Regions from separate parts of the Homo sapiens genome. Here region 1 is linked to region 2. The links come from fine-mapping of genetic effects on gene expression. A gene starts in region 2. The other region holds a variant in brackets. All regions are shown on one strand. Distances are from middle to middle. Region 1 holds the start of ATXN7L1 (ataxin 7 like 1). Region 2 holds the start of CDHR3 (cadherin related family member 3).

Region 1 (16,178 bases), 93 kb before region 2:
GCGGCACCCGGGGGTGGGATGAGCACTCTGTGGAGGAGAGGTCAGGAAAGCTGCAGGCATGTCAGAATCGCCACACACAGGGACCACCTGGGGTGTGAACAGGAGCCAGGGTCCGGAGCAAATGCAGAGCAAACCGAGGGCAAAGCCTCACGCTCCAAGGGAGGAGCTGGCAGAAAGGGCACAAAAGCGGGTGCCATGAAAACTTCTGTGAAGCAAATATGATTTTCAAAAAGCTGTAGGGTTGTCTACTGTTTAAAGAAATGCCCAGTAACTCCATTTGGAAAGCAAATAAGCCCCTACTCTGTTTAAACCTGGCTTGTGTACCGGGTTTGTGTTCTGCCATTAAGTCTTTTGTCTCAGCCACTGAAAGTGGCAGGACTCATCTGAGTCCCTAATTCTCTCTGGGTCCTGCCCCGCTTCTGCAAAAGATGATGAGGAAGGGCACAATGATGGAAGGAGTAACTCAAGGGAACAGAAGCCTGGAGTCTGGGGACTTGGCTAACAGGGCTGTTGTACATGGGTTGGCCAAATGGATTCAACCTTAAGCAAATGTAACCAGTTCTGGTGGGCGTGGTGGCTGACTCCTGTAATCCCAGAACTGTGGGAGGCTGCAGTGGGAGAATCGCTTGAGCCCAGGAGTTCGAGACCAGCCTAGGCAACATAGGGAGACCCCGTCTCTAAAAATAATAGAAAAAATTAGCCAGGCATGGGGGCGTGCACCTGTGGCCCAGCTACTTGGGAGGGAGGCTGAGGTGGGAGGATCACTTGAGCCCGGGAGGTCAAGGCTGCAGTGAACTATGATTGTACTACTGCACTCCAGCCTGGGCGACCGAGCTACTGCCCCTTCCCACCCAAAAATGTGACCAGTTCCTCTTTTCCAGTGGATCACCCTCTTCTTGACAGTCTGGCTGGGATTCTGTCCCATTAAGTGTAAAAGGTGCTTGAACCCACAAGCTCCAGGTCCTTATCAGAAGAATCAAACCACCAGCTGGTAGACAATGGGGTCTGGGGCCCATCGAAGGTCACCTGAAACCCCACACAGAGGAGGTGATTAATTAGGAGAGGGGACAGCACTGAGGAGGAAAGGACTGTCAAGGACTCTTCTGGTCTGTGAAACCACTGAGAGAGAGACAGGGGGGTGACACCAGCTCCTCTGGGACCAGCAGGGCAATCACTATAAAATGCTTAAATGTCCCAGTTAATGGAGAATGGGTGAAATCCAAAGTCACGGGAAGTAAATGTTGCCACATCGCCCTGTCCTCATGTGGGAGATGCATTCTGTGCCTTTCCCAGCCACTCCAATCCAAAGGATCCTCTTTGTCACTGCCCTCTCAGAGACAGTGACAACTAGGGCATCTCTGTGGCTGAAGAAGGTAAAGGACTTTCACACCCACTTAGCAGGCATATCACCATCAAAAGGACACCTCTAATGTGGCAGTATTGAAGAGTGATCTCCGCTCCATCATCCTAGAGAGCACACCCTTCATGAAATTACTAACAATCCCAATGCCATGAGGGAAACTGAACAGCGGCCTAGAAGATGTTCAAAAGGAGGAAAAAGAGAGAAATCATCACTCTAGATAGACGCCCCTGGAGTTGCTTGGCAACCATCTTTGCTAACACCTTCTCCCAAAAAGGAACACAGTTTGCATTAGCTCCTGTGATTTCCCTGAGGCCAGGACTCTGGCCACAGAGGCCCCAAAGCTGGGGCCTTGGAATGAGAGAGCGTTTCCCTGATGGGGAGACCCAGGGCCCTATCAGGAGGCCACTGGCTTACACAGTCAAGGGGGAATGAAAGGTAGTTCAGCCTTGCCATTTTGCTTAAAGAACAAGCTCTCTTGGCCAAGGATGGTGAGAGGATGAGTGAAGTCAGGTGCCCAGGTGCAACACTTAAGGGGCACTCACTCCGCACTTGCAGAAGCCCACGTGAGCCCCTCCTTAAACAGGTGTCCTGGGTGCCTGCTTGCTTCCCCTTAGTCCTAACCCTGCTCCTAGGATGACAGACATCAGGACACAGTGCTTAGAGCACAGTCTCTGGAATCAGCCTGCCTTGGGGTTCAGGGCAGCTCTACTATTCCCCAGCTATGTTACCTTGGGTAAATCACTTGACCTCTCTGAGCCTCAGCTTCCCAATCTCTGAAATAGGGTTGATAACAGGATTTGCCTCACAGGGTGGTCATGAGGATTAAATGCGAACATGCACATTTAGCCCTGTGCCTGGCACCTAGTTAATGCCCAATAAAAGACAGCTAGGATTGTTACTTAAAAACAAAACAAAACAAACAAAAAAACACATAAGTTGGGCTGTGTTTAGCCCAAAAGGTACCAGAAAAATAAATTTAAAACACAAACAAAAAACTCCAAAAGGAAATACATAAGCAGCTCCCTAGAACCCCTGAACCTGGATCTATAGAATCAGAATCTCTGTGGGTGGTCCTGGCATATTTGCTTTTAAAAAGCTTCCCAAGGAATTTTCAAGGTAGGCAGGGTTGAGAACCACTTCTCTCAACCAATAAACAGTAGTTCTCAAAGTTCAGGAAACAACAGAGCCACCTGAGGAGCCTGTTTAAAATGCACGTTCCTGGTCAGGTGTGGTGGCTCACACCTGTAATCCCAGAACTTTGAGAGGCCGAGGTGGGAGGATCACCTGGGCTCAGGAGTTTGAGACCAGCCTGGGGAATATAGCAAGACCTTGTCTCTACTAAAAGTCAAAAAAAATTAGGCAGGCATGGCAGCACACGCCTGTAGTCCTAGCTACCTAGGAGTCTGAGGTAGAAGGATCGCTTGAGCCCTGGAGATCGACGCTGCAGTGAGCTTGATCATGCCACTGCACTCCAGCCTGGGTGGCAGAGAGAGGCCCTGTCTCAAAAAAAAAAAAAAAAAAAAAAAAAAGGACATTCCTGGTTCCTGTGCTTCACTCCCGGTTGTTTCGTTTTAGTATGACCAGCCTGGGGCCGGGGGCACGAAGTACCCTACAGGACAACACAGCAGGGTCTCCAGAATGAACACACTTTGCAAAACATTGAAACAGATTCATTCGTTTTTTTTTTTTCTTTTTTTTGAGACGGAGTGTCACTCTGTCCCCCAGGCTGGAGTGCAGTGGTGCAATCTCGGCTCACTGCAACCTCCGCCTCCCGAATTCAAGCAATTCTTCTGCCTCAGCCTCCCAAGCAGCTAGGACTACAAGCACATGCCACCATACCTGGCTAATTTTTGTATTTTTTTTAGTAGAGATGGGGTTTCACCACATTGGCCAGGCTGGTCTCGAACTCCTGACCTCATGATCCACCCGCCTGGGCCTCCCAAAGTGCTGGGATTACAGGCATGAGCCACAGTGCCCAGCCCCAGATTCACTCTTGAAACTAACAGTACAGGGACACCAGTCCAATCCCTTTGTCTTTATTCGGGGCATCCTTAAAGAACTGGAGACATACAAGTTGACAAAAGATGCCTGGTGAGCCCCGGGCATCCCCCGGAGCAGTAAGAACGCAGTCTGTCCCCTGGAAGTGGCAGCTCTTAAGACAAAGGCGAAGACCCAAGTGCCCGGTAAAAACAACGATCATCACAACAAAGGCTTCCATTACTGAGTACCTACTTTATACCAGATAGCATCTCATTTATTTCCACAACAATTCTGATAGGTACTATTATTCCTACTCTGGAAAAGAAAAGTAGAAATTGAGGCTTAATTTAATACACAGCCAATAAATGGTCAAGATTTAAATAATGCTCCATTAAACTCCCAAGCCTGCAATGCCAATGAACCTTTTTGTGTGTGGTAAAATACACATAACATAAAATTTACCATTTTAACTTTTTTTTTTTTTTTGAGACAGAGTCTCGCTGTGTTGCCCAGGCTGGGGTGCAGTGGCGCGATCTCAGCTCACTGCAACCTCCGCCTCCCGGGTTCAAGTGATTCTCCTGCCTCAGCCTCCTGAGCAGCTGGGACTACAGGCACGTGCCACCATACCCAGCTAATTTTTTGTATTTTGAGTAGAGATGGGGTTTCACCGTGTTAGCCAGGATGGTATCGATCTCCTGACCTCGTGATCTGCCCACCTTGGCCTCCCAAAGTGCTGGGATTACAGGCGTGAGCCACTGCACCCGGGCCATTTTCACCATTTTTTATGTGTACGGTTAGTTCTGTGACATTAAGTATATTCACAATGTTGTACAACCATCACCACAGTCCATCTCCAGAACTTTTGCATCTTCCCCAACTGAAACTCTGTATCATGGCAACACTAACTCTCCGTTTCCCCTCCCCCAGCCCCTGAATACCCACCATTCTACTCGCTGTCTGTATGAATCTGACTACTCTAGGAACTTCATTATACATGGAATCACAGAGTATTTGTCCTTTTGTGACTCATATACTTTTTGAGAACTGGACTATCACCTTGGTCTGATATAACCAAACTGGGACCATGTCTCCAGCATCTTCCATACCCCTGGAATGCTGAACTCACCTGTGGTTAATATCATCGGACTGGGTGTCCTGTGTCCCCACCCCACCCCAGGACTCTGTGGCCTGTCAATGCCTTGAGGTAAGGTCACGTAACTCACACTCCCCCTACAGTTAAGGGTATCCTTACACCATTAATGTTCACAGATTTACAATTAGCATCACAGAATCAGGTACACCGGTAAGTGCTTCTGTGTTCAAAGAGCCTGTCATCGACTCACTTTTATCTTCCCCATTATGGTGACCTGGTGCCACTTCGTCCTGCCCTGGAGAGTATTTATTTGGTTTCCATTTCTTCTGTAAGCACTTGATCCCTTAAAATTGGCAAGCAGAATTGTGTTGAGAAACCACAGGTACAAGGATAAAGTGTCTCCATAAAAACATTGCTTTCCCCACAGCAGAATTCCAGCTTCACTTATAGACGACTAGGGCAGCCAGGTCTAGCCCCTGAATATTAAGGATGCTCCGCTGTAGCCTCAGCCCACTTGCAAGAAGGGATTTCCTGAGGTTTCATCATTAGTTCAAGCGCCTCAGGGTCCAAATCCAGGTCCATTTGGCAGTCTGAGCTCTACCACAGGAGAGAGTAAGAGAATGCCAGCCAAACGGCATCAGCTGGGAGCACGTAATCAGCAGAACACTGGACCGGGAGATTTAGGAGACAGTCACACACAGAAGTCAGTCCTTGCCATTCCTACAATATTCTGAAAAAGTAGAACCCACTGGCTAAAGCTCTCCCTCTCCATTACGGCTATGTTTGATTATTGCAATCACTCAGTGACCACTGTCTCCAGATGTGAATAGTGGGCCACCTCAGTGTGTGGGGTCCTTAGAGAAGAGGGATTTGACCAGGACAAGGTCTCACTGCATTGAGTACTACCATCTTATGCCTACTTCTGAAATATGTCATGAATGAAACAAAATGTCATAAACGAAACGTTAACCTGAAGGATATAAATGCAACCAACCCGGAAAACCATACAGAAACAAATCTGCCTAACTTTTCTAAATCAATTCTGCAGCAGAGACGGCAGGCCCCTGGGAACCGCCGGCTGAAAGCATCAACATGGCCTCACAGTCTTAACTGATGCTGCAGACCACCTGGCACACAGGTCAGAAGGCCTCAGGAATCAGACCCTCCCCTGCCCTTTGTACCTTCCCAGGCTTAACATGGAAATCATGAAAGCAGCCACTTTGCTTTCCGTCATGTGCATCCCCATTTCAGACATATCCCGTGGGTAATCAAACTGCAGAGAACGCCAGTTGTATTTTCAGCCTGACTTTAAATATAAACTGAAATCCTTACTGCTTCACCAATGCGATGTGGTACTTTTGACATCGGGGGCCACTGTATAATAAATGCCATCATTACCAGAATTGATGCTTTGGGTCTCCTCCACCCACAGTGAAGGAGGGTTGGGCCACCCAGAATTAGAACCTGCAACTCACTATTGTCACCAGTGACTGCAGACTGGACTCCAAGGTTTGGAAGAGTCATCTTGGGAACTTTGGGAGGAGGGTTCCCTGGGGGACCGAGGCTTCTCTCTCTTTAGATCCTCCCAAATGTAGCTCAGCGCCAGGGGATAGTCACAGTACAGGTATATCTGCTGAGTAATCGACAAGGCTGACTTACATGGGCTGAAGGCCTAACACATGGACAGATATTGGCAGAATATTTCTGTATCTTAGTCTATTTTTCTTGTGTTCTTACCTCTCCAGCCTCACCAGCCAGTGATTCTCTATCAGAGCGATTTGTCCCCCTGGGACATTTGGCAATGTACGGAGATATTTTTGGTTGTCTAAACTTGGGGGAGGGGAGGGAGACACTGCTGGCATCTAGCAAGTGGAGGCGCAAGATGCGGCTCAGCATCCTGCCATACACAGGACAGCGCCCCCAAAAAGAAGCATCTGGCTCAAACCATCAGTGGTGCCACTGGTGAGAAATATTATACTACTGTGTGCTTTGCTATCTTTACTCCAGCAAGAGGACTTTTTAGGTTCAGAACAGTCTATATTCTCTGGCACTTGGGCCTTTATCCCTGTCGTTTCCTCTAACTCTGTCCTGCCCAGCTCTACACATGGGTAACTTCCTGTATCCTCCAGGTTTTAGCTTACATAAAATTTCCTCTGGGAGGCCGGCACTGAGCCCCTACCTCAGTGAGGCCCCCCCACCATGACCTCCAGCAGCACCTGAGTTTCCCTATCAGAGCACTCATCGCGGTCTACCTGTACTTTCGCCACCAGGCTGGAAGCACCCTGAGGGCAGGCAGGGGTTGTGGTTTTTCACTGCTGTGTCCCTGGTGTCTAGCCCAGTTCTGGCACGTCAGGAGAGCTCCCTCCAGGTCAAACACATAAGGGAGGCTGAGAAACAGTTGAGCGTATTAAAAACTTGGCAAGACACCCAGAGGCTTAAATTGTTACCCTACTATGCAGGCACCAAAAGAGAACATGGCGACTTCTCATGAACTGACATGGACAGCTCTCTAAGATAAATGGAAATGGCAAGATATCAGCTAATACTATAGGTTTCTATCATTCACGTGAGAACAAGAAGACAAAATTATATATGTATCTACTTGAATGCACACAGAATATCTTTGGAAGAATACACAAGCAACTGGGGATGGGGTGGGAGGGAGACTTACTTTCCACTTGGATAGCCTTTTGAATTTTGTAACATGAACATTATTAAAAAAAATAAGTAGTTTTAAAATGAATGTGTATGTGTGTGTAATGGTCTACATCTTCTAGCAGTAAAAACATTATTCTCATAGAATGATACAGGATGAGACCCTGGTACAGGGCAACTTAGAAGGCAAATTATCATATACAGTGTTTCCGTGTGTCCATTCTAGCTTCCTGTTGTGGAAGTAGACAGAGCCACATTTCTTCCACACGGGAACCCAGGCACAAGGAAATAATTGTATGTATAAAGAAATACTCATTTTGGAAGCTTTGTATTTTCCAAACTAGATGATCAGGATGTCCTTTCTCATCTGTGTTGTGTTGGTTGTGGCATGCCCCTGCTCCATCAGTGGGCTGCACCTGTAGAGCTTATAGGTCTCCAAGCCCTTCCCTTCTCCGTCTCATCTTTCCTCCCTACCACCTTTAAGCCGCTCCATCTCTCCCATCCTTCCATCCCAAAAGCTGGGCCAGATAAGAGAGATGATAATGTAACGCCAAAGTGAACAAATGTTACTGCTTGTTAGCAAAAGGGGAGGAAGGTAGGCTTAATGGGGAATGAAGTTGAAATTAATGGTAAAAATGAGGTTTATCTGTGTAATCTGTGGACTTTGTGTCTTCCCATCTCCTATTAACATAGATAACAGAGTTGTCTATAATGATAAAGGGAAGCTGTTCGCAGTTTCCCATAAATCTCCATGGCCTGCTGCTGGCTTCTCTGGCTTGGATTCTAAGAAAACTTCATTCTTAACCAGGTCAGTTGCCACCTTCTCCAATTTGCTCCCATCCAGCCACAACTGCAAGACTCCTAAGCCTGAGCTGAACATGCTCCTATGTTCTCTGCACCCTCCTATATTCCAGCCCAATTCCACCAGCATCTCAGAAGAACAGCAAACTCTTATAGTCACAGCAATATCTTACTGGCCCCAGCACAATTTTCAAATTGGAAACTTTCCACCAGTTTATCTACATCACATCAAAACATGTGGGAACGTTAAAACACAGGCAAGTTTTCAAAGTGACAAGTGTAGGCTTCCAAGAGACCCAAACAGGAATCTATTCAGGACTTTTTTTTTTCTCAGTGATAAAATAAAACAACTTATCGATCATTGAAAAAAGTTTTTTAGATCTCCCAGTCCCTAGAAAGAACTTTGTATAAACTCTTCTTAGCCATAGGCCATATACAGCCTAAGTATTATTCGACAGCTATTGATAAAACTTATCAATGATCACTTAACTGCACTCTATTAAAAACATTGATATCTGGCCGGGTGCGGTGGCTCATGCCTGTAATCCCAGCACTTTGGGAGGCCGAGGCGGGCGGATCACAAAGTTAGGAGATCGAGACCATACTGGTTAACACGGTGAAACCCAGCCTCTACTAAAAATACAAAAAAATTAGCCAGGTGTGGTGGTGGGTACCTGTAGTCCCAGCTACTCGGGAGCCTGAGGCAGGAGAATCACTTCAACCTGGGAGGTGGAGGTCGCAGTGAGCTGAGATCGCACCACTGCACTCCAGCCTGGGTGACAGAGGGAGACTCCATTTCAAAAAAAAAAAAAAAAAATTTGATATCCATAGAAATTGTTTCTTTAAAAAATCATTAGTGTCATAAAATTACAACAAAATGGTTTACTCTAAAAATAAAGTTTCTGCTACGTATCTTTTCTTTTCATCACAGATTAGTTTAAAATCCTAATTAGAATAAAGTTTTCTAGAGCTAGCTTCATTAATAATGATAATAATAGTAAAAGCCAACATTCATTAAGCACTTACTATGTGCTAAGCCCTTTTGTATTATCTCATTTAATCATCACAACAACCTTATTCTTTTCTGTCTTATAGTTAGGGACACTTATGAGGCACAGGAACCCTATTCCTTATCTATGAATTGGTATTCTTTAAAAAAAAATTCAGGTGAGGCAAGGGGAACATCTTTCTAAATCACTGAGAGCTTTTCCCTAATTAGCTTGAAAAAGCTGAGGAGGAAATTATTTGAAAAGGTTAGCACAGAAGAATGGCCGTCCTTGGAATTTTCTCTCATAAACACCTTTCACAGATTAGGCTAATAAGGTTTCTGGGAGTCCTCCTCTCAGGAAATCTGAATGCCTGACTGATCCAAGCTGACTGGGGTCAAATCATTCCTCACTAGGGGAACACATTGGGTTTTGGACTCAGAACCCCACTTTTCTCGGAATGCTGAAGGCCAAATACCATTCACAAATGATTTGCAGCAGAATATTGCTTGTGTATGAGATGCAGTGATTTTTGCCACCAAGAAGTTATAAATTGAGAAAATAAACCCAGTTATTTTTGAAGTAGTTTAAGATATTTTTAATGTGAGGGCTTGGGTTTTTTTTTTTTTTTTTTTAAGTTTCTTTAGAAACAGTTTGCCTGCTATAACTGCATCTCAAAGGAAGGTACATTCAATAGAGAAGCTTGGGTTCAGAGGTCTCAAAGGGACCTTAGAGGACATTCAGTTCCACCCCCCTTTCTTTAAATATGGGCAAATAGGCCAAGAGAAGTGAAACGACTTCCAAAGGGCATAGATCAAAATGTAGGAAGCTGACTCAAAGTGCTATCCTGCTCCTTCCAGTACCCAGGTTGTCCTGGATATAAGCCCATCTAAGCATATCCACCCATGGATCTAGCAACGCCTTCTGAACCCAGGTGATGACAACATTCAAAAGTATTTGGGGCCAGGTGCAGTGGCTCATGCCTGTAATCCCAGCACTTTGGGATGCTGAGGCAGGCAGATCACCTGAGGTCTGGAGTTCGAGACCAGCCTGGCTAACATGGTGAAACCCATCTCTACTAAATATACAAAATTAGCCGGGCGTGGTGGCGCATGCCTGGACTCCCAGCTACTTGGGAGGCTGAGAAAGGAGAATCGCTTGAACCCACGAGGTGGAGGTTGCAGTGAGCCAAGATCATGCCATTGCACTCCAGCCTGGGCAACAAGAGCGAGATTCTGTCTCAAAAAAAAAAAAAAAATTGGCAAATTCCTCTTAGCTATAATTTAGCTAATTTTAGATGAAATAATAACAATGACATGAAAACTTTATTACAGACATTTCAAAGCATCCAGTTAACATTTCATACTT[T/C]ATAGGTGGAGAACTGAAAGAAATGGAAAGAATTGAAAGAAAGTTTAAAGGGGTGAGGAATGGGGAACTGTATTACAGTAATCAAGTTATTCAAAAAGTCTGCAAGTCCTTGCTGTGTCTTCTGAAGTTGTGGCCAGATAGAGGTAGAAACCAAAATAATTTTTTTTTTTTTTTGAGCTGGAGTCTCGCTCTTTCGCCCAGGCTGGAGTGCAGTGGTGCGATCTTGGCTCACTGCAAGCTCCGCCTCCCGGGTTCACGCCATTCTCCTGCCTCAGCCTCCCAAGTAGCTGGGACTACAGGTGCGTGCCACCACGCCCGGCTAATTTTTTGTATTTTTAGTAGAGATGGGGTTTCACCATGTTAGCCAGGATGGTCTCGATCTCCTGACCTCCTGATCCACCCACCCCAGCCTCCCAAAGTGTTGGGATTACAGGCGTGAGCCACCATGCCTGGCCAAACCAAAATAATTCTTATTTCACATTTCCAGCCTAACTTCTCTTCCTGAGTTTAGTCTATTAAAAATATATGACACCAATGTTCATAGTGGCATTACTCAAAATGGCCAAAATATGGAAACAACCCAAATGTCCACCAACAGATAAGTGGATAACAAAACGTAGTATATATACACAATGAAATATTATTCAGCCTTAAAAAGGAATGAAGTACTGATCCATGCTACAACATGGATGAGCTATGAAGAGATGCGAAGTGAAATAAACCAGATACAAAAGGATACAGATTGTATGACTCCACTTATATGAGGTATCAGAATAGGCAACTTCATAGAGACAGAAAGTAGAACAGTGGTTACCAGGGCTGAGAGGAATGGGGAATGGGGAGTGATTGCATAATGGGTACAGAGTTTCTGACTGGGATGATGGAAAATTTGGGAAATGGAAAGTGATGATAGTTGTGTAATATTATGAAAGTACTTAGTGCCACTGAATTGTATACTCAAAATGGTTAAAATGATAAATTTTATGCTATGTATATTTTACCACAAAAAAAAAAAAACATCAAAATCGGAACCACCCGCCGGGCACGGTGGCTCATGCCTGTAATCCCAGCACTTTGGGAGGCCGAGGCGGGTGGATCACGAGGTCAGGAGATCGAGACCATCCTGGCTAACACGGTGAAACCCCATCTCTACTAAAAATTCAAAAAATCAGCCGGGCTTGGTGGCGGGCGCCTGTAATCCCAGCTACTTGGGAGGTTGAGGCAGGAGAAGGGTGTGAACCCGGGAGGCGGAGCTTGCAGTGAGCTGAGATTGCGCCACTGCACTCCAGCCTGGGCGGCAGAGCAAGACTCCGTCTCAAAAAAACAAAACAAAACAAAACAAAACAAAACAACAACAACAACAAAAATCGGAACCACTTCCCTTCAATTCCCAGTTGGAATTTCTAAACTGTATTTTGTTCATTCATTCCCATTAAAGCCGAATTTCTTCTCAAGACCTGCTTAAAGCCAACAGTGTCATGGACAATCTACATACATTCATAAGCACAGGTACACAGCCACACACAGGCTACTTTGTGTCCTGCAGTGACCCATCCACAAACATGTATCCGTCCCAGGACTTTGTTGATCACTCCAAAAAGAGGGCCCATGGCAAGCATTACTGGAGATCCAGGTAACCAAATAAACACCCTGTCTCAGCTCAACCCTTCAATTTCTCACCATGGGGGAATACGTATTCAGTATATAGATATTTTATCTATAAAGAAAACTGCATGCATATATACCAGAAAGACCATCAGGAATTGCTCACCCAAGTCTGTTCCACCAGGCCTGTGAACAAAGAGATTTCAGCCCATATATGGCTATTTTGGTGAAGTTAGCAATTTCAAGTTACACTGAACAGTGGGTGTCCTTAATGCAAATATGTATAATTAGGAGCTAAATCTTCGTACCTTTATAGGACAAAGGACCTAATAAGCGGGATGTACCACCTGTGACTTCTGAGGAAAGGAGAGCTTTTCATTTTTTCTTAAAAGAATCCGTTTCTCAGCCAGGCACGGTGGCTCATGCCTGTAATTCCAGCACTTCGGGAGGCCAAGTGGGCAGATCACGAGGTCAAGAGATCAAGACCATCCTGGCCAACATGGTGAAACCCCGTCTCTACTAAAAATACAAAAATTAACTGGGTGTGGTGGCACGTGCCTGTAGTTCCAGCTATGCAGGAGGCTGAGGCAGGAGAATCGCTTGAACCCGGGAGGCGGAGGTTGCAGTGAGCCAAGATCGTACCACTGTACTCCAGCCTGGCGACAGAGTGAGAATCCGTATCAAAAAAAAAAAAAAAAAAAAAATCTGTTTCTCATGAGGCAAAGAGAATCTGAGAACAACAGTCTTCTGAAATAGAAACAGGGACTGGGGGGAAAGGATGTGAGTTTTGTGTGTGATAGTCATAACGCATCACCCAGACCTGAGAGGTGACAATCCTGTGCTATACCATGACCTTTACTCAACTTTAATTTAAAGATTTCCACAGCCTCATCATCTTTTATGGACACGTTGCCAGTAGCCTGATAACTGGGTCTTGCAAGCACTTAGAGATCTCAAGAGTTTGTGTGTGAAGAAAAATAATCTCTAGTGATGCTTCCCACTGCCAACACACATGAACATTTAACACAAATAAGCTGCCACTTGTAAGAAGTCCACTTGACATCAATCCCTCGTGCATCCTGAAGACACCTGTCAAGATCACACTAAGATATTTAGAAGCAAACATCTTTAGAATAATGTTTTGTTCCCAAAGTGCTTAATTAGCAGAAACATTATGCTAGGGAACTGTCCTTGAATATGTACGCATTTTAACCTTCATGTTATTTTTTCTGAAGCACAAAATTTCCTCTCAGTGGATGGTCAGGAAATGATTGGGCACAGAAAACCAACCATCTGAAGTGTTGATTCATAAAATGAGTTCCATCTTTCCACGCAGGCTTCAGCTGCCTTCCAGGGTGACATCCCTTTTTATGAGGGGGACCATTCTTTGGCATCTAATGGCCTTTTCTCCATTCATTTGGGATGACCAATGCACCTATGGCCTACTTATGTCTGAACTCTTTCAATACCACCAACCTCTTCTGTCCCCTTGTGCCATCTTCCCACCCCCAATTTCAGCCAATTATGTTTATAAGACATCAGTTAGTGAATCACAATTCAAATGAATCCACCTATTTGCTTAGCAGCAAGTGGCCCCCGGAGTTGCTCCATTTGAAGCCCATAGGCCAGAGTTACATACGGCAGGCTTGCAAATGAGAACAGGATATGATTTATTTATGACGACCATATGTGTTTGATGCCCAATTGCAGCAGGTTGTGGCTTCTCTTGCATATCTTGGTCTGGGATGACCTATCTACTCAGTGTGTCCCATTTCAGGTACCGTATTTCCATGCTGGGAAAAGAGAGATGATGACTGCTGAGGGGCTGCACATACAGATGCTCCTAACCCTGCTTGCCACATAACAATCTGTGACCAAATGCAAAGTGGGCCAAATGTAACTTGCTGCAAAGGTTTGCCATGTACAATGGTTTTCAGTGGTGAGTGGAGAAGTAGCTGCTGGAATGACTGACCATGTGGGGTTCATTAAGCTGTTGTGCATTCACCCACGAGAAAGGCTGGGATGCTTGTGAAGGGAACTCCACTCTTCATTTCAGAAATTTTAACGCCCCACCATTTGGCAATGATGCTCCCAAGGAGAATGGCAGATATGCATCAGAAGGTTCAAACGTGGAGTCCAACTGAAGTGCAGTAAACTTCTGCCTTCAACAGTCTCACCCCCCTTTACCCCCCCCCCAGTTGTATTTATACTTTGAAAGAAGTTAACATGAAGCAGTAGTCACCTGGGCGTGCTCAATTTTTGACAAGCCTTAGTCACTCTGTACCCAGCAGAACAATTCACATTATATTCGAAATCCTGTGAAGATTCTGCCACACATGCTAACACTAAAATGCCAGTAGCTCCACTTACCTTCTTTATTAAGCCTCATAACCTCCCTGCTTTTTCCACCCTCTTTTCCAGCCTCTTCTAAATCTACATCTGCAGATGAAAAAGAAAAGGAAAACAGAAAATAAGGAAAAAAGGGGGGAAAAAAGCCAAAGTCAAGGGGGGAGGGAGAGTGTTTATTTGCAAACAGATCGATATAAATACTGTATATGAAATTCTTTCAAAAATTGACAATGCAACATTTTCTCCCAAGTCTGGGTTTCCATCTACCTGGCCCAGATAGGTACCCAAAAAACTATGCAAGCAGCAACAAAGTAGCCTTTTAAACGGACAACACCGTGGGGCTGCGAGCCCACCCCGCGGGCTGCCACGGGGAGCCGGGCACAGACAGACAGACAGCCCTGGCAGCCGGGCCTCTCCCTGTGCATTGATGATCTGTCTCTGTGTGTATTTATTTAGAGAGAGAGGGAGAAGCATGGAGGACACCGGGGGCCACTCTCTCTCTCACACACACACTTTTTCCCAGTGGCTCTAGGTGAATGGAAAGGTTACAGGATAATAAAAGGAGGAGGAGGTGGTGGGGTTCTTACTGTCGGAGCAGTGTAATTTGGCGGCGTCGATCCAGGAGGACCAGGGTTTGCCCAGAAACGCCTCCGGACTGGGCACTTTGCGATCCAGTGTCGCCATTGCTCTTCCTTCTTGTTGCTTTTTCCCTGTTCCTTCGGCAGCAGCAGCCGAGAGACACGGGATTCGAGAACGCTCCGACGTCATCTTCGGAACGTTCCGACATTGAGTGTTCTGAAAGGGGGAGGGAGGGAGGAAGGGCGGGATGGGAGGAGGGCGGCGGAGGAGGAGGGGAGAGGGAGCGGAGGAGGGGCGGGCGCTCGGGCTCCCGGAGCCGGCTCGGTGGGGCTCGCGCGCCCGCGGCCGCCAGGGGCAGCAGAGAGGCACCTGCAGTCCGCGCCCGCCCGCCCGCCGGGGCCGCCCGCCTGCCGGGGAGGGGCAGCGCGGACGGGCGAGCGCCGCGTGCGGGAGAGCGAAGGCTGCAGCGCGCCCGGCAGCCGGGATGCAGCGGCGCCGCCCAAGCCTGGGGCGCAGGGGTCGGGGCACACGGGGATAGGCCCGACGCGGGGCCGAAGGAAGGGTGGTCTTTCCCGCAGAGTTGCCGCTGGAGGACCGAAAGTTTTGCAGGCAGCCCTTGCTTCCAGCTTGTCGCTCTCTCCCCGCGTCCCTGTCGCCCAACGCGAGGCGCCCCCGCTGGGGTCCCGACGGCTTGGTGGGGAGGAGCCGTGAGGGGTTGCGCCCCCCACCCCCACCCGAGCCAGGGAAGGGACCCTGGTGACCTCGCCTCCCAGCCCTCACCCCCGTCACCCCTTTCTTCTCTTTCCTGGAGGACTTTGGACCATGGAGATTCTGCAGTTGTTGCTCTAGGAGCTGAAACCAGTGGGTAGATGTCGTTCTGAAACGCAGGTGAGTTTGGAGCGCTACGAGCTACCTTCCCATCTCAGGCTGCGGGGCGTGCAAAACTCAAAAGTTAGGGCCCCCGGACCCCCGGGTTCCCCGCGCGGTGCGTATCTCCGGCTCTCAGAGAACCACTGCATGGACTTTGCTCCAGGGTCAGCAGAGCGGGAGGGCGAATTTACGGCTCTTGGAAGACGACGCTAACGGGCCTAGCCCCTGAGCCGTTTCCAGCGCTCCCTGCCGTGAGACGAGGGTGGCCCGGGTTTGCGCAGGCAACCTTTGGCCAGGAATCTGATTCCTGGGAGAATTCACTTCAGGCTTAACTGCTCTAGCCAGCTAGAAAGGGAGCGCTAGATTTCCTCTGGATTTTGGACGTTGGGTGCTTTAGTTGAGATTTTCACCCTTTAAAGAAGGCTTTAAAAAGTCTTCTGTTACTTCTTTTTAACAAATCCTTTTGTTTACTAGAATTATCTAAACTATATGGACACCGCCCTCACCCCACAAGCGACATATTTTTTTT
Region 2 (16,178 bases):
GCTGGCATAATGCCATTGGATGAACTATACTATTTCATACCTCTACATTGTTAACTGCTTTTGCCTTTACCCTTCATTTCTTCAGCTCACTCCTGCCCTTAGAAACCTTCCCTGACAGCTTCACTCTTGACCTACATTTGATTCTTTCTCTCCACTCTCTCATACCCCACAGCCTCAGGCATGCCTGGAGTTCAGTGGAGGCATGCCTAGATTACTTGGTTATAATCCTGGGCTTACTGGTTTGTCTCTGGGCTAGGGCCCGAGTTCCTTGATGGGAGAACCATGTCATAGCAGACCTTCCATCCTGATGCAAGTACAGTGGTGTGTCCAGAATTGGTGGGTTCTTGGTCTCACTGACTTCAAGAATGAAACCGTGGACCCTCGTGGTGAGTGTTACAGTTCTTAAAGGCGGTGTGCCCACAGTTTGTTCCTCCAGATGTTCAGATGTGTTCGGAGTTTCTTTCTTCTGGTGGGTTCGTGGTCTCGCTGGCTCAGGAGCGAAGCTGCAGACCTTCACGGTGAGTGTTACAGCTCATAAAGGTAGCAAGGACCAAAAAAGTGAGCAGAAGCAAGACTAATTGCAAAAAGCAAAAGAACAAACCATCCACAACGTGGAAGGCGACCCAAGCGAGTTACCACTGCTGGCTCCAGCAGCCTGCTTTTATTCTCTTATCTGTCCCCGCCCACCCCCCCACATCCTGCTGATTGGTCTATTTTACAGAGAGCTGATTGGTCCATTTTACAGAGAGCTGATTGGTCCGTTTTGACAGGGTGCTGATTGGTGCATTTACAATCCCTGAGCTACACACAAAAGTTCTCCACGTCCCCACTAGATTAGCTAGATACAGAGTGTCCACACAAAGGTTCTCCAAGTCCCCACCAGAGTAACTAGATACAGTGTCGATTGGTGTATTCACAAACCCTGAGCTAGACACAGGGTGCTGACTGGTGTATTTACAATCCCCTAGCTAGACATAAAGATTCTCCAAGTCCCCACCAGACTCAGGAGTCCAGCTGGCTTCACCCAGTGGATCCAGCACCCGGCCGCAGGTGGAGCTGCCTGCCAGTCCCGCGCTGTGCGCCCGCACGCTTCAGCCGTTGGGTGGTCGATGGGACTGGGCGCCGTGGAGCAGGGGGTGGCGCTGGTCGGGGAGGCTCAGGCTGCGCAGGAGCCCACGGCGGCGGGGTAGGCTCAGGCATGGCAGGCTGCAGGTCCTGAGCCCTGCCCCGCAGGGAGGCAGCTAAGGCCCGGCGAGAAGTCGAGCACAGCAGCCGCTGGCCCAGGTGCTAAGCCGCTCACTGCCCGGAGCCGGCGGACTGCTCCGAGTGCGGGGCCCGCCGAGCCCACACCCACCTGGAACTAGCGCTGGCCCGCAAGCGCCACGCGCCGTCCCGGTTCCCGCCGGCGTCTCTCCCTCCACACTTCCCCTCAAGCTGAGGGAGCCGGCTCTGGCCTCAGCCAGCCCAGGAAGGGGCTCCCACAGTGCAGCGGCAGGCTGAAGCGCTCCTCAAGTGCCGCCAGAGTGGGCGTCCAGGCAGAGGAGGCGCCGAGAGCGAGCGAGCGAGGGATGCCAGCATGCTGTCACCTCTCAGTGCTGCCATGCGGTGAGCTTCAACCAGAGCCACAGCTGGCTGACTGGATGGATGGAAGGAGGGGTGCTTCTACAGAATCTGTTGCTTGTGGCCAGGCATTTTCTTCAGAGAACAAAACAGTTCTCTGCGATAACCTTAGCATGCACAACAGGGCTTGACACACAGTAGGTATTCAATATTTCTTGAGTGAATAAATAAATGCCACCTAAAGGGAGAAGGGGGAAGAAGGAATCAGCTGGCATGAAGATGTTTGAACAAAGTGGCAGAGAGGGTAAGTAGGAGGAGACCCATAGCTTGGGGTAGGGGGCTCCAGGAAGCCAATGAAGGATGCTGGAGAAGGAGCTGGCTTCAAAGCAGTTAGACAATTGCCCACAAGAATGACCTGGTAGAATCACCATATGACCTGGTAATTACACTTCTAGGTATTTCCCTAAGAGAAATAAAAACCTATGTCGTGCAAAAACTTGTACACAAATGTTCATAGCAGCATTATTTTAATAGCCAAAATGTTGAAATAACCCACATGTCCATCAACTGATTAATAAGAAAATTAAATTGTGGTCTATCCATACAACGGAATAATATTGGGTTGGTGCAAAAGTAATTAAAAGTAATGGCAAAAACCGCAATGACTTTTGCACCAACCCAATATTATTCAGCAATAAAAAGGAATGAAGTATTGAGCCATACAACAAAATACACGAACCCAAAGAACATTATGCAAGTAAAAGAAGCCAGTACAAAAGGCCACATATTGCTGGGTGCACTGGCTCCTGCCTCTAATCCCAGCACTTTGGGAGGCCAAGGCAGGCGGATCACCTGAGGTCAGGAGTTCGAGACCAGCCTGGCCAACATGGCAAAACCCTGCCTCTACTGATAATACAAAAATTAGCCTGGCATGGTCGCACGCGCCTGTAATCCCACCTATTTGGTAGGCTGAGGCAGGAAAATCACTTGAACCTGGGAGGCAGAGGTTGCAATGAGCTGAGATCACGCCACTGCACTCCAGCCTGGGTGATGGAGTGAGACTCCATCTCAAAAAAAAAAAAAAAATTTTAAAAAGGCCACATATTGTATGATTCTATTCATATGAAATGCCCAGAATAAGGAAATCTATAGAGATAGAAAGTAGATTAGTGGTTGCTAGGGTTGGGGGCGAGAGTTAGAGGAAAATTGAGAGTAACTGCTAAGGATTGAAGAGGTTTTTCTTTGGGGGGGATGAAAATGTTATAAAATTGATTATGGTGATGGTTGCACAACTCTATGAATATACTAAAAATCACTGAATTGTACACTTTAACTGGGTGCATTGTAAGGTATGTGAATTATATCACAAACTGTTTAAAGAAAAAAAAAAGAATTATCTGGGGACGTGAGCCCAGAGAGCAGGCAGCCTAGCCCACAGTCACAGCAGGTGCCCTGGAGTCAGGTGGGGCTGAGCCCCAAGGACGTCTTCTCAGTCACTCTTCCACCTGTGAAGCCAGGAAAAGGACCCTACCAGTGGGTCCTGAGAGCCTTGGCTTCAGAGGAGCCCCTCCCATGGTCCTCAAGGCCAGTCAGGGGATGCAGCTCCGGGGTTCTAGAAGTGAGAAGGGCTGTGGCACTTCTTTATTTCTATCCCTGCAAGAGCTGGCGGGGGCGGGGGGGGCTCTCACTGGGTCGATGTTTGGGGTGGGTGTGAGAGGAGAGCATGGCACGAGGCAAGGAAGTATAAAGTAAGATCAGTAATTCCATGTTTTTTGAGCACTTACTATGCATCTGGCACAGTGTTAAATGTGAAGCAATTGGAGTGCAAAGAAGCATAAGAGCTTCTCTGTCCTGGAAAACTTGCCAAGGCTGCATGGAGACAGATGTATAAAAGATCCATGAGATGTGGTGCTAAAGCAGTGCGTGTGCTAGGACAGTGGCCCACAAAGAAGACACGGGGAGGGATGTGTTTCTATTCTTGCAAGCAGCTTTGTGCATCTGCATGGCACCATTGCTGTGAGCATGGGTCTACCCTGAGTGCCTTTCCTGAGGGAGGCCTGAGATGGGGGAGGTGCTTGAATGATGGAACCTGGGTGTTCTGTTCTAGGTTTTGGATTCCTGGAAGCCCATAGTTCCAGTCCTGAACAAACGGACCATGAACAGAACTGCCCCGCAGATATAAAGGTGATGAGGCTTGCAGGCCAGCCCACCAATGCTCGTGGAGCTGCTAACAGAGCCCAGCCATTGCACAGTACTTCTGTGTCTCATCTTAAGGCTGTAATATTTAAAATACAGACAAGTACAGTTAGTTAATGATGGGGATACATTCTGAGAAATGCAATACTAGGCAATTTCATCATTGTGCGAACATCATAGAGTGCACTTACACAAACCTCGATGGTATAGCCTATTACACACCTGGGCTGTATGGTATAGTTTATTGCTCCTGGGCTACAAACCTGTACAGCATGTTACTGTACTGAATACTGTAGGCAATTGTAACTCGATGGTATGTATTTGTATATGTAAACATAGAAAAAGTACATTAAAAAATACTGCATAAGGCCGGGCACGATGGCTCACGTCTGTAATCCCAGCACTTTGGGAGGCCGAGGTGGGTGGATCACGAGGTCAGGAGTTTGAGACCAGCCTGGCCAACATAGTGAAATCCCCTCTCTACTAAAAATACAAAAAACTAGCTGGACATGGTGGCGGGTGCCTGTAATCCCAGCTACTTGGGAGGCTGAGGCAGGAGAATAGCTTGAACCCAGGAGGCGGAGGTTGCAGTGAGCTGAGATCGTGCCATTGCACTCCAGTCCAGGTGACAGTGCGAGACTCCGTCAAAAAAAAAAAACAACAACAAAAAACTGCATAAATGATTTTTTAAAATGGTACACCTCTATAGGACACTTAACATGAATGGAGCTTGCAGGACTGGAAGTTGCTGTAGGTGAGTGAGTGAGTGGTGAGTGAATGTAAGGCCTAGGACATTACTGTACACTACTGTAGAGTTTGTAAACTTAGTCCACTCCATTTATTTTTCAATTTTTCTTTCTTCAATAATAAATTAACCTTATCTTACTGTAACATTTTTACAAACTTTTATATTTTTAAAACTTTTGACTCTGTTGTAATAACAGCTTAAAATACATTGCACAGCTGTACAAAAATATTTTCTTTCTTTATAGCCTTAATCTATACTATTTTTCTATTTTTTTTTAACTTGCAAACCTTTTTTGTTAAAAATGAAGACACAAACACACACATTAGTCTAGACCTGCACAGGGTCAGGATCATCAATGTCATGTCTTCCACCTCCACATCTTGTCCCACTGGAAGGTCTTCAGGGGCAATAACACACATGGAGCTGCCATCTTCTATGATAACAATGCCTTCCTCTGGATACCTCCTAAGGGCCTGCCAGAGGCTGTTCTACAATTAGCTTTTTTTTTTTTTTTTTTTTTTTTTTTTGAGATGGAGTCTCACTCTGTCACCAAGGCTAGAGTGCAATGGCGCGATCTCGGCTCACTACAACCTCTGCCTCCCTAGTTCAAGAGATTCTCCTGCCTCAGCCTCCCAAGTAGCTGGGACTACAGGTGCTCACCACCATGCCCAGCTAACTTATATTTTTAGTAGAGACGGGGTTTCACCATGTTGGCCAGGTGGGTCTTGAACTCCTGATCTTGTGATCCACCCGCCTCAGCCTCCCAAAGTGCTGGGATTACAGGCGTGAGCCACGGTGCCTGTCCAGCTTTATTTTTTTAAATAAGTAGGAGTATACTCTAAAATGACAGCATACATTTATTATCATTATAAGTATTATGTACTGTACATAACCGTATGCGCTAGACTTTTGCATAACTATCAGTGCAGTAGGTTTGTTCCACCAGTATCTCCCCAGACACATGAGTAACATGTTGCACTATGATGTTACAACAGCTACAACGTCACTAGTTGATAGTAATGTTTCAGCTCCATTATCATCTATGGGACCACCATTGTGTACGAAGTCCATGGTTGATGGAAATGTTGTCATTATGCGGTGCATGACTATATGTTATAGATTATGTAAGGGTAATTGAGTTCCAAGTTCCAAGTCAAAAAATGTTTGGAACACAACTCCTTTGCTAGCAAATTAGACACTTACAGTAGCTAGTTCCCAGGGAAGTCCCCTGAAATACTTTAAGGGCCTGAATCACTGCTGAGCCAGACAGCATGTAGGAGAAGGCTCCTGGGTCTCATGTGAAGCTGGAGGGGTGCCTGCCCTAGAGATTCCGACCCTGCCTGAGGAACCCATTCATCCCATCTGGCTGAGACCTTGGTGGATCCAGGACAGCTCAGCATGCTGGCAGTCAGGGACAGGAGAGCCAAGGACCGCAAGGTCCCATTCAGCCTTGGTGCGATTCAGGCCCAGTTGGGTGTCTGGTGCTAGGACTAGGTGCTTTCGGAGGGAGATGGGAATTGACACATGGGCAGCAGCCCGCGGCAATGGCAGAAACAACCTCGGGGCTGGAAACAGAAGCTGTAATTACAGGAGAAAACACCCACAATGAATTCCAAAAGATGACCCTTTTGCTCCCTAGAACCAGGGAGGGAAAGGAAGGGGAGGCACGATCTCCTGGTAAAAACAGGGTAACATGAAAAATGCTGTGCAGTCAGGCTGAAAACTAAACAGATGTGAGTTTCTTTAATACAAAAGTTTAATCATTCTGACGTTTTCCATAACTTAATCTGAGCCATCGCTTCAGCTTGAATTATGCATAATGAAATGGATTATTTACAGTATCTCACATGACAGGAAAAACTGAGAGGTGAGAATTGGTAGCTTGGCAACTGTTGTTTATTTTTCTTTTTATTTGGCCAATATATATTGAGTACCTACTATGTTTCAGCCCTTGCCAGGGTCCTATTAGGAAAAAATAGTGTGGCACATGCCTGTAATATCAACACTTCGGGAGGCGGAGGTGGGAGAATCGCTTGAGCCCAGAAGTTTGAGACCAGTTTGGGCAACATAGGGAGACGTCCTCTCTAAAAAAAAAATTTTTTTAATTAGCCTGGTGTGGTGGTGCACGCCTGTGGTCCCAGCTGCTCCAGAGGCTGAGGTGGGCGGATTGCTTGAGTCCAGGAGATTGAGGCTGTAATGAGCTATGATCGCGCTGCTACACTCTAGCCTGGGAGACAGAGTGACAGTGAGATCCTGTCTCCAAAAAAAAAAAAAAAAAAAAAAAAAGTATTTTTAAAACACATAGTATGGGCCAGTTTCTTTCACTTCTTTCTCTTGTGTATCGCTTGCGATGATACTGTGTAGCAGGTATTATTTTCCCTGATTTACAGAAGTGAGTGGAACTGAGATTCTGAAAGGTTAGGTAAATTGCCAAAGGTGACACAGCAACACTCCCTTTTGTTTTGTTGTTGTTGTTACTATCTATGTGCTTCGAACAGAGACCTATCGACTAGCTTTCCTAATCTTACTACCTTTCCTTCATGCTTTACACAAGAAAAGTCAACTTTTCTTAAGGGAAAGGTTCTTGTTATTTTGAGCAGGAAAGTAAATGACCAAAATTGTACTTTGGGGAAATTAACCTAAGTTTCTGTAGGATGTGCTGCGGGCCAGAGCCCAGGCCAGAGGCAAGGACCTTAAGCCAGGGCAGTAGCAACAAGCATGGGAAGGGGCCCGGCAGCAGGCCCTGGAGGCTGGAAAGGGCTTGTCAAATGTTTGGATGTGGTGGAAGGGAAGGGCAGCCTTGCCACCCTAGGTTTGGGACGCAGGGGACACAGGGGACACTGGCAGGTGGCGCAGCCTGGGTCAAACCCCTCACTCTCTGAGCCCTTCTTGCTTGGCACCCTTGCAAATAAATGCCTTCCTTTCTATTGCTGCAAAAACCTCGGTGTGGATATCCGGTTTTACTGCACAGGGTGAGTGGACCCAGTTTGGTTCCATAACACTGTCTCCCTCTATCCCTCGTTGGTGACCTCCGTGTAGCAGGTGCTAAAAGCTGGTTCACCTGTGGGGCATGTGTAGTTTTCAGAGCGCCTGTGGGGTCTCGTCCAGACTGGGAGGCTCTGACTCAACTCCCCACCTTCTTCACTGCATTCCTGCCCCCAGCCTTGGGCTGCTGGCCTCTCCTCCCCTAGCTGGCAGAGGAATGGGAGAGGTGGTCCAAGCCCAGCTGCCTTCCACTGTGCCCACTACTTCTCTTACTGCACCATGTCAAGGGGACAGGCCACTGCTCGGCCGTTCTCTCTCTGCTCTGCTGTTGCTCCTTCTCAGTGGAGACTAGACCCCAGCCCGCGTTTGTTCACATGCCACATCTTGTGCCCTGGCACAGGGCTGTGTGGAACAGAAAGGCATCGTGAAGGGCAAGACCTGCATCACTCCCCAGTGGGCAGAAGCCTCACCACTCCAGTAACCTTCCTTCACAGCCTTCTTCGAGGGCTGGAGGGGCGGTGGTGGGGGGTGGAGTCAGAGGGCAGTCTTCCACCTCAAGTCAGCCTCGAGGAGGGGTCTGCTCCCAGCTCTCAGATCTTGTCTTTAGAACGAGTGCCAGTTAATTCCCAAGTCTGAATCCTACTCATTGATTCAGGACAGCAGAAAAACTCCCACTTCCCACCCCTGTTTCTGGAAATGACCACAAGCCTGGCTACAGGGCGACCGAGACCATCATGGGTGGACTACGCACGTCCAGCTCTTAGTGTGGTCTCCGTGTCTCGGTTTTCTCTTTTGACTTCTCTTTTGGAGCTCTTGGTTGAGACACTTGGTGAGTGTGGACTTTTAAGGTAAACTCTGAGCTGACCAGGACTGGCTGGTTGGTCTCTTGGGTGCTATGCAGTCACAGAAGCAGGTAATCAAAGAACAAACAGTCCTGTGGTGTTTGGAGTCTCCCTTGGCTACCGCCAAAGCCTCTGTTTGATTTCTTGCATGGCAACAAAACCAGGAGGGGAAGCTGAGTGGCTTCTGGAATAAACTTTGGGTGTGAGACGGGATTCAGGCTGTGGCTAATGTGCTGGAAGCACGCACAGTTGTGACCATCAAGTATGCAGGAAGCAATCATTCTCCTGGCTCTCCTGGGTGCCATGTCAGGTAGGAACTCAATTTTGCTTTGGAACCTTGCTTGCCTACTTGGTCTGCATAATACCATTGAATGACAATGTCCCCCAGAAAGGAAATTGCCCCTGGGAGGCTTGTTCAATTGAGGGCTTAGCTGCAGTAATGAATGAGGTGATGCCGCTCCAGGGAGCCCTGGGGGACCAGGTAGGAGCCCTGGAAAAGAGAGATGCTTAAAGAGCCTAATCTAATCTATGTTGGTGTAGACTTCACTTTCCCTCTTGGGTTAACTGGCCTGCATTTGGTAGTCCTCCTGAGATTTAAGGTTGGGAAAATAGTGTTCATAGCAGAGCTTTGTGAGTATGTCAAGTGAGTCTTTGTGGAGATTCTGGCCCTTTTCTGGAGGCTCGTAGGGCAACTTGAGGTTGACAAGTGATCCTTTGAGGAAAGTGAGTTACTGAGGGGGTGTCTTCCTCTTGAGCAAAGAAAACACCTTCTGATAGAAGGGTCAAAGACTCAAGCTAGTGATCATTTTACTCTCTCTTCCTCATTCAAGGGCATCAAGAATCTTAGATGATCTTTTTAATGTCAGCTTGGATTATTGAAATTGAGATTTTAAAATTAAATTTTATTTCTGAATAGGTAGTATATGCATAATATATTGAATTTATGTTAAATTTGCAAATTAATTTAGGGATAATTTACATCTTTGACAAGTTATGTAGTAAAATACTTAGAAGAGTGTCTGAGTACATAGTAAATGCTTAGTAAATGTTAGTGAGTATTATTTATGATCTTGAGTCTTCCTAATCCAAGAACAGGGTTCTAGATACTTGTTTGAGTCTTCATTTGTTTTTCTTAGGAGTATTTTGAGGTTTCCTTCATATAGATTTGGTACATTCTTATTATGGTTATTTCTAGTTCTTTTACTTTTTCTTTTTTTACATTTGTAAATGGAATCTCTTCTTCCCTACATCTTTCAACTGATTATTGTATGATGTATGGAAATCTGTTAACAAATTATCTTATTATTTGGCATGGTTTTTCAGGTGATTCTCATGAATTTTCCACGTTTGAAAAAATGAACATTTATATTCTTCTTCTCCTATGTCTATAGCTCCTATTTTTTTCTTATCTAACTGCCAGGCCTGGACATTCTGACCATTATTAAATAATGACAAGAGTGTAAATTCCTGTCTTGTTTCCCATTAAGCATGATGTTAACTTTTGGTGTGAGAGAGAAATGTTTTATATGTTAAGGAGGTGGCTTTTATTCTTATTAATATAAGAATATTACAGTATTTATTTCTAAATAAAAATATAATAAAACTAAATGTAAGAATATTCAAGTACTTATTTCTAAATAAAAATGGATTTTTAAATCAAACGCTTTTTCAAGATCTATGAAAATGACCATTTAATTTTCCTCTTCGATCTGCTAATAAGATAAATAAATAACTGGGTTTCCTAATATTGAGCCCTCTTCTATCTTGGGCTTTTCAACTCAGCAGAGGGCAGGATGACCTGTGAATGTGAAGTGGGCCATGAGCAGTTCAGACTGTCACTTGAAGTAAACATTTCAGATTTCCCCCAGAAATATGGGCTTTTAGGGCCACAATCATTTGAGTCGAGGTGACTTTTATTGTCACTGGGGAAAGAGTGAGGTTAGGAAGAACCCAATTTCTTATACTGAACACTATCATTTGGAATTTTATCAGAAGTGTGAAAGGGATAGATCACAAAGGTTTGCAAGAAATACTTGAGATTTCTTATTTAAAACACACAATAGAATCCCTTAGGTCAAATCTTGTTTTTGGAAGGGCTACTGTGACACAAACTGTTTCTTTTGTGAGTCTGAGAACCTGGTCATTACCCTCACACTCCAACACCTGGGCTACAGAGGCTTCTAGCGGGGCAGCCACATCAGCACCCCTTCAGGCTGTTGGAAGCAGGCATCACTATAATAATCTCAAATAAAGTAACATACAGTAAAAAATTAGCAGAGCATGAAGACGGGTGCCTATAATCCTAGCTACTCAGGAGGCTGAGGCAGGAGAATCGCTTGAACCCAGGAGGCGGAGGTTGCAGTGAGCTGAGATTGCGCCATTGCACTCCAGCCTGGGCGACAGAGTGAGACTCCATCTCAAAATAAGTAAATAAATAAAGTAACATAGAGTATCCTCTTTCCTTTCATGTGTTCTAACTCCTATGCTTCCTTCAAGGCCCAACTCAAGCCCCACCCCCCCCCATGGAGTCTTCCTGGATTGACCTAGCTCCTGGGGAGTGCTCCTGCTGTTGCACCCTGGAGCTCCTCTTGCCTGCACATGGACTGCCTGCAAAGAGTTCAGTCCAGCACCTAATGCAGATTCAGTGCTCAGCCAAAAGTAGCATGAGCTATCATACTGTAATTCATCTGTTATATGGCCATTTCTGCCTCCTCAACTAGAATGTCAGCCCTGCAATAACAGATTTCATATATCTTATTGCTCATTGTCCCTGTGTGCCACATATATAGAGGATATCCAATACATATTTGCTGTTTTTATTTTTATACTTTTTGAGTCTGGTATGGTTTTTTCCCCACATTTACTGATACACCCCAAATGTAGAGCTTTAGATCTTCTTCCTGCTTGATATTGACATTTAAATTCACTTCTGTCCTTTCCACCTCCTATGAAGATGAGTTTCCCTTTGTGAAGCTATAGTGCCTATTCCACCAACAGCTTACAAAGGGAGGCTCTACAAGAATATAAACTAGACAAAACTTTCAACTGCCCCAGTGGAAAGAGTTGAGACAAAGCAGTCATCTGGCTCCATCAGTCCCAAAGGATCACATGTGAGTCCCAGAAGATGAAGGACATAGAGAAGGACCCTTGGTATTTTTAAATCCACTGCACATGGAAGCTGTCTATGTTTTGAAGAAGCATCCAAGGAACCAGCTTTTGTATTACCCTCCTGGAAATGAAAAATGCCAGGGTATTTAATGAAAGAAGGGATCCTTGGGAGCCAGAAGATTCACATGGACATGAAAAGGTACCAAACCCATCCAACTGAGTTTGTCCGCAAGCTCTGGGCAAGAGGCAATCACAGCTTTCTTCAGCCCATCATCTGTGCGTGGTTCTCTGCTAGCCAGTGTTGGCAAATCAAACAAAGGCCCAAGACTGAGTTTCTTATTCTCCTTGGTAATTAAAATGTAAATGCTTCTTAATGCTCTCATCATATGAAAAGGCTGGAAGATGCAATCCATTTCTAGAAAGTCTTTCTGTCAGCCAATTAACCCTATGTATCAGGCCCAAAGAGTGTTGCAAGAGGTTTCTACTTTTTCCGTCATGTCACTTTCCTGTTCAGAGTCACCTCAGAAGAACAAAAGACAGTCCCTTCTCTCAGCTCTTCCTTGCCCATGGCAACCTCACCCCCAGTGCAAGCAGTCAGGCAGTCACTGGAATCCATCCACTTTCGCCTCCATGTAGTTGGAAGAGATTTGAAAGAAACAAGCCTTTCTCAGGCCCACCCCATAGTGATGCTCTAAGATAAACACGTCTGTTTCTTGCCAGTTATGACCTAGCTGGTGCAAAATTAATCTTGGTTTTTGCCATTGAAAGTAATGGTAAAAACCACAATTACTTTTTTTTTTTTATTATTATACTTTAAGTCCTAGGGTACAGGTGCACAATGTTCAGGTTTGTTACATATGTATACATGTGCCATGTTGGTGTGCTGCACTCATTAACTCATCATTTACATTAGGTATATCTCCTAATGCTATCCCTCCTCCTTCCCCTCACCCCATGACAGGCCCCAGTGTGTGATGTTCCCCTTCCTGTGTCCAAGTGTTCTCATTGTTCACTTCCCACTTATGAGTGAGAACGTGCAGTGTTTGGTTTTTTTGTCCTTGCGATAGTTTGCTAAGAATGATGGTTTCCAGCTTCATCCATGTCCCTGCAAAGGACATGAACTCATCCTTTTTTATGGCTGCATAGTATTCCATGGTGTATATGTGCCACATTTTCTTAATCCAGTCTATCATTGATGGACATTTGGGTTGGTTCCAAGTCTTTGCTATTGTGAATAGTGCCACAATAAACATACATGTGTATGTGTCTTTATAGCAGCATGATTTATAATCCTTTGGGTATAACCCAGTAATGGGATGGCTGGGTCCAATGGTATTTCTAGTTCTAGATCCTTGAGGAATCGCCACACTGACTTCCACAATGGTTGAACTAGTTTACAGTCCCACCAACAGCGTAAAAGCGTTCCTATTTCTCTGCATCCTCTCCAGCACCTGTTGTTTCCTGACTTTTTAATGATCACCATTCTAACTGGTGTAAGATGGTATCTCATTGTGGTTTTGATTTGCATTTCTCTGATGGCCAGTGATAATGAGCATTTTTTCATGTGTCTGTTGGCTGCATAAATGTCTTCTTTTGAGAAGTGTCTGTTCATATCCTTCACCCACTTTTTGATGGAGTTGTTTGATTTTTTCTTGTAAATTTGTTTTAGTTCTTTGTAGATTCTGGATATTAGCCCTTTGTCAGATGGGTAGATTGCAAAATTTTTCTCCTATTCTGTAGGTTGCCTGTTGACTCTGATGGTAGTTTCTTTTGCTGTGCAGAAGCTCTTTAGTTTAATTAGAACCGATTTGACAATTTTGCCTTATGTTGCCATTGCTTTTGGTGTTTTAGACATGAAGTCCTTGCCCATGCCTATGTCCTGAATGGTATTGCCTAGGTTTTCTTCTAGGGAAAAACCACAATTACTTTTACACCGACCTAATATAATGTACAGAATCACTAGTTGAATCACCTTTCCTTCTGTGTCCTATAAAGGGCTCTTTTCTGTTAATCTTGCTTGGCCTGGATTGTTCCTTGTTCCTCCCAAAAAAGGGGGTGGGTGAACATCTCATTCAGGAAGAGGTATATATTGTGGAAATTAAAGAAATAGGAAAAAGTTGCATATGTTGAAACAACATTTGACAATGCTTTATAGTTTACTGAGCATATGCATTTTCTTTTCTTTCTTTCTTTCTTTTTTTTATTTTTTATTTTTTTGAGATGGAGTCTTGCTTTGTTGCCCAGGCTGGAGTGCAGTGGCGTGATCTGGGCTCACTACAACCTCCACCTCCCAGTTCAAGTGATTCTCCTGCCTCAGCCTCCCAAGTAGCTGGGATTACAGGCAGCTGCCACCACACACTGCTAATTTTTGTATTTTTAATAGAGGTGGGGTTTCACCATGTCGGCCAGGCTAGTCTCAAACTCCGGACCTCAGGTGATCCACCTGGTTCGGCCTCCCAGAGTGCTGGGATTACAGGTTGAGCCACTGTGCCTGGCCGAGCATATGCATTTTCTTATGTGGCATCTGTGCTGTGAGAATAAGTTTCCATAGGCCTGATATTAGCCTGAATTTTTCTGCTGAAGTTCGTGAACCACACTGACCCCTAGTCAAGGCATGAAGCATGCTGATTAATAGTGTTGCTTTGGCTAGGTGCGGTGGCTCACGCCTGTAATCCCAGCACTTTGGGAGGCTGAGACGGGCAGATCATGAGGTCAGGAAATTGAGATCATCCTGGCTAACACGGTGAAACCCAGTCTCTACTAAAAATACAAAAAGTTAGCCAGGCGTGGTGGCGGGCACCTGTAGTCCCAGCTACTAGGGAGGCTGAGGCAGGAGAATGGCATGTACCCGGGAGGCGGAGCTTGCAGTGAGCAGAGATCGCGCCACTGCACTCCAGCCCGGGGGACAGAGCGAGACTCCGTCTCAAAATAAAAATAAAAATAAAAAAAGTGGGCCGGGCGTGGTGGCTCACGCCTGTAATCCCAGCACTTTGGGAGGCCGAGGCGGGCGGATCACGAGGTCAGGAGATCGAGACCATCCTGGCTAACACGGTGAAACCCCGTCTCTACTAAAAATACAAAAAAAAATTAGCCGGGCGAGGTGGCGGGCGCCTGTAGTCCCAGCTACTCGGGAGGCTGAGGCAGGAGAATGGCGTGAACCCCAGGGGGCGGAGCCTGCAGTGAGCCGAGATTGCGCCACTGCACTCCAGCCTGGGCGACAGCGAGACTCCGTCTCAAAAAAAAAAAAAAAAAAAAAAAGTGTTTCGTTGTAACCGTGGGTCCTAGGAGTTTCTGAATGGTTTGTAGCAGCTTGTAAGCGTTGTTTATTGATAACAGTGGGATTGATTATTTGCACCTGGTCTCAACGAGGACCTTCTGTGGGTTCTGCCGTTGAGGCCAGTTATAGAACAAGAATATGCCTACAGCAAAATAGAAAAAAATCCCAGTAAAGACTCCATAATTCCAAGATATTTGTGCATACATTGGCTGTTCCTGATCCAAGACAGTGCATTCTTCCGTCCCATAGAGAAAAGACAACAGTAAGAGCCTAGCCTGCACCTGGCCTCTGTGGATCTCCTGCTGAGGCAGCCTTCAGCTGTAGTGCATATCCTTACTTTCATGTTGTTGCTATGCTGTATCCGTTTTCTGTAATAAAACTGTAGATTTATAAGCATTGTCACTTGGGTCCCATGAGTCTTCTTTAGCAAAGGAACCCTGTTTAGTGGCTACTGTTAATGTAGCACCATAGCCCTGAGAGACAGAGTTGACAGGAACCCCCAGAGAAGTCAAGGGACCAGCCTAAGGTCACACAGTCAAGCAGTGGCAAAGCTAAGACTTGAAGCCAGGGGTCTGATTCCAAATCTCTCGTTCTTTTCACAGAACTGATTTTGTTCACTGCTGTTTGATTAGGTACTAGAGAGAATGAAGAGGTAGCTATTGAGTGATGGTCTCAGGGAGTCCTGCTCTGTGTATTGAAAGCAGAGCTCTAAGTTAGAGCAGCTACACCCCAAGAAGAAGATGGCATCACCCCACATTCTTGACCCGCATCTCCACTTTCAGTGTCAAAGGTCCAGGGTGGCCAACTTCCTCCTCTCTGAGACTGTGGAAGGCTTAATTATCCCAACATAGGCTCCCAGGGAAGCCCCATTGGTCCATTTCTGGAGAGGCAGTGATTCAAGGGAGACAAGTGAGCACATCCTGCATCCAGATCTTAGCCACAAGCAAGATGTTTCAGTGGGCGCCATGGCTGACAATAAATCTTTTGCATGCTCTTTCTTTTCCAAAGTACGTGCTTCAAGCAATTCTAATTTGATTCTTAATTAAGATGCATGTGTAAGTCAAATTCCATTAGAGCCTCCTTCTTGCTCTCTAGCACTCAGACCACCAAAGAAAGCCTGGAAGACCAGCCATGGAAGGAAAGTATGCGGTGTTTTAGGGAGAGCTGGCACCTGGCCTCTAATCTTCCCTCTGCCATTGACCAGATGGGTGCCTTTGGATACATCACTTAAGCTTACCTGTATAACAGATGGGTTTAACATTTTGTGAATATTGTATCTTATTCATTACTCTATTTTTAGGGTATGGACCCTAGTCACTTATTATCCTTGCTATTGCTATTATTACTACTACTACTTCTTTTACAAATAGCAATAGAGCTGGAGAAACCGGATTTTGAATTAAGGTCAGGAGAACCCAGCTTGGCTATCTTTTTAAAAAAATCAGTATCCCCAGCACTTTGG

What was found.
Region 1: its variant is fine-mapped to the expression of CDHR3 in whole blood (TOPMed, PIP 0.93).

The regions. Positions count from the first base shown.
Region 1 is chr7:105,861,591-105,877,768 of GRCh38, forward strand. ATXN7L1 (ataxin 7 like 1) reads right to left here and starts at 15,009. Exons shown (of 12, transcript NM_020725.2): 1 at 14,788-15,009; 2 at 14,222-14,290. The coding sequence starts at 14,968. RefSeq lists a silencer at 15,052-15,261. The variant T/C (reference allele first, on the strand shown) is at 10,247.
Region 2 is chr7:105,954,724-105,970,901 of GRCh38, forward strand. It overlaps CDHR3 (cadherin related family member 3), which reads left to right and starts at 8,541. Exons shown (of 19, transcript NM_152750.5): 1 at 8,541-8,641. The coding sequence starts at 8,596. RefSeq lists enhancers at 992-1,493, 1,494-1,993, 7,094-8,045, 8,046-8,997 and a silencer at 8,580-8,874.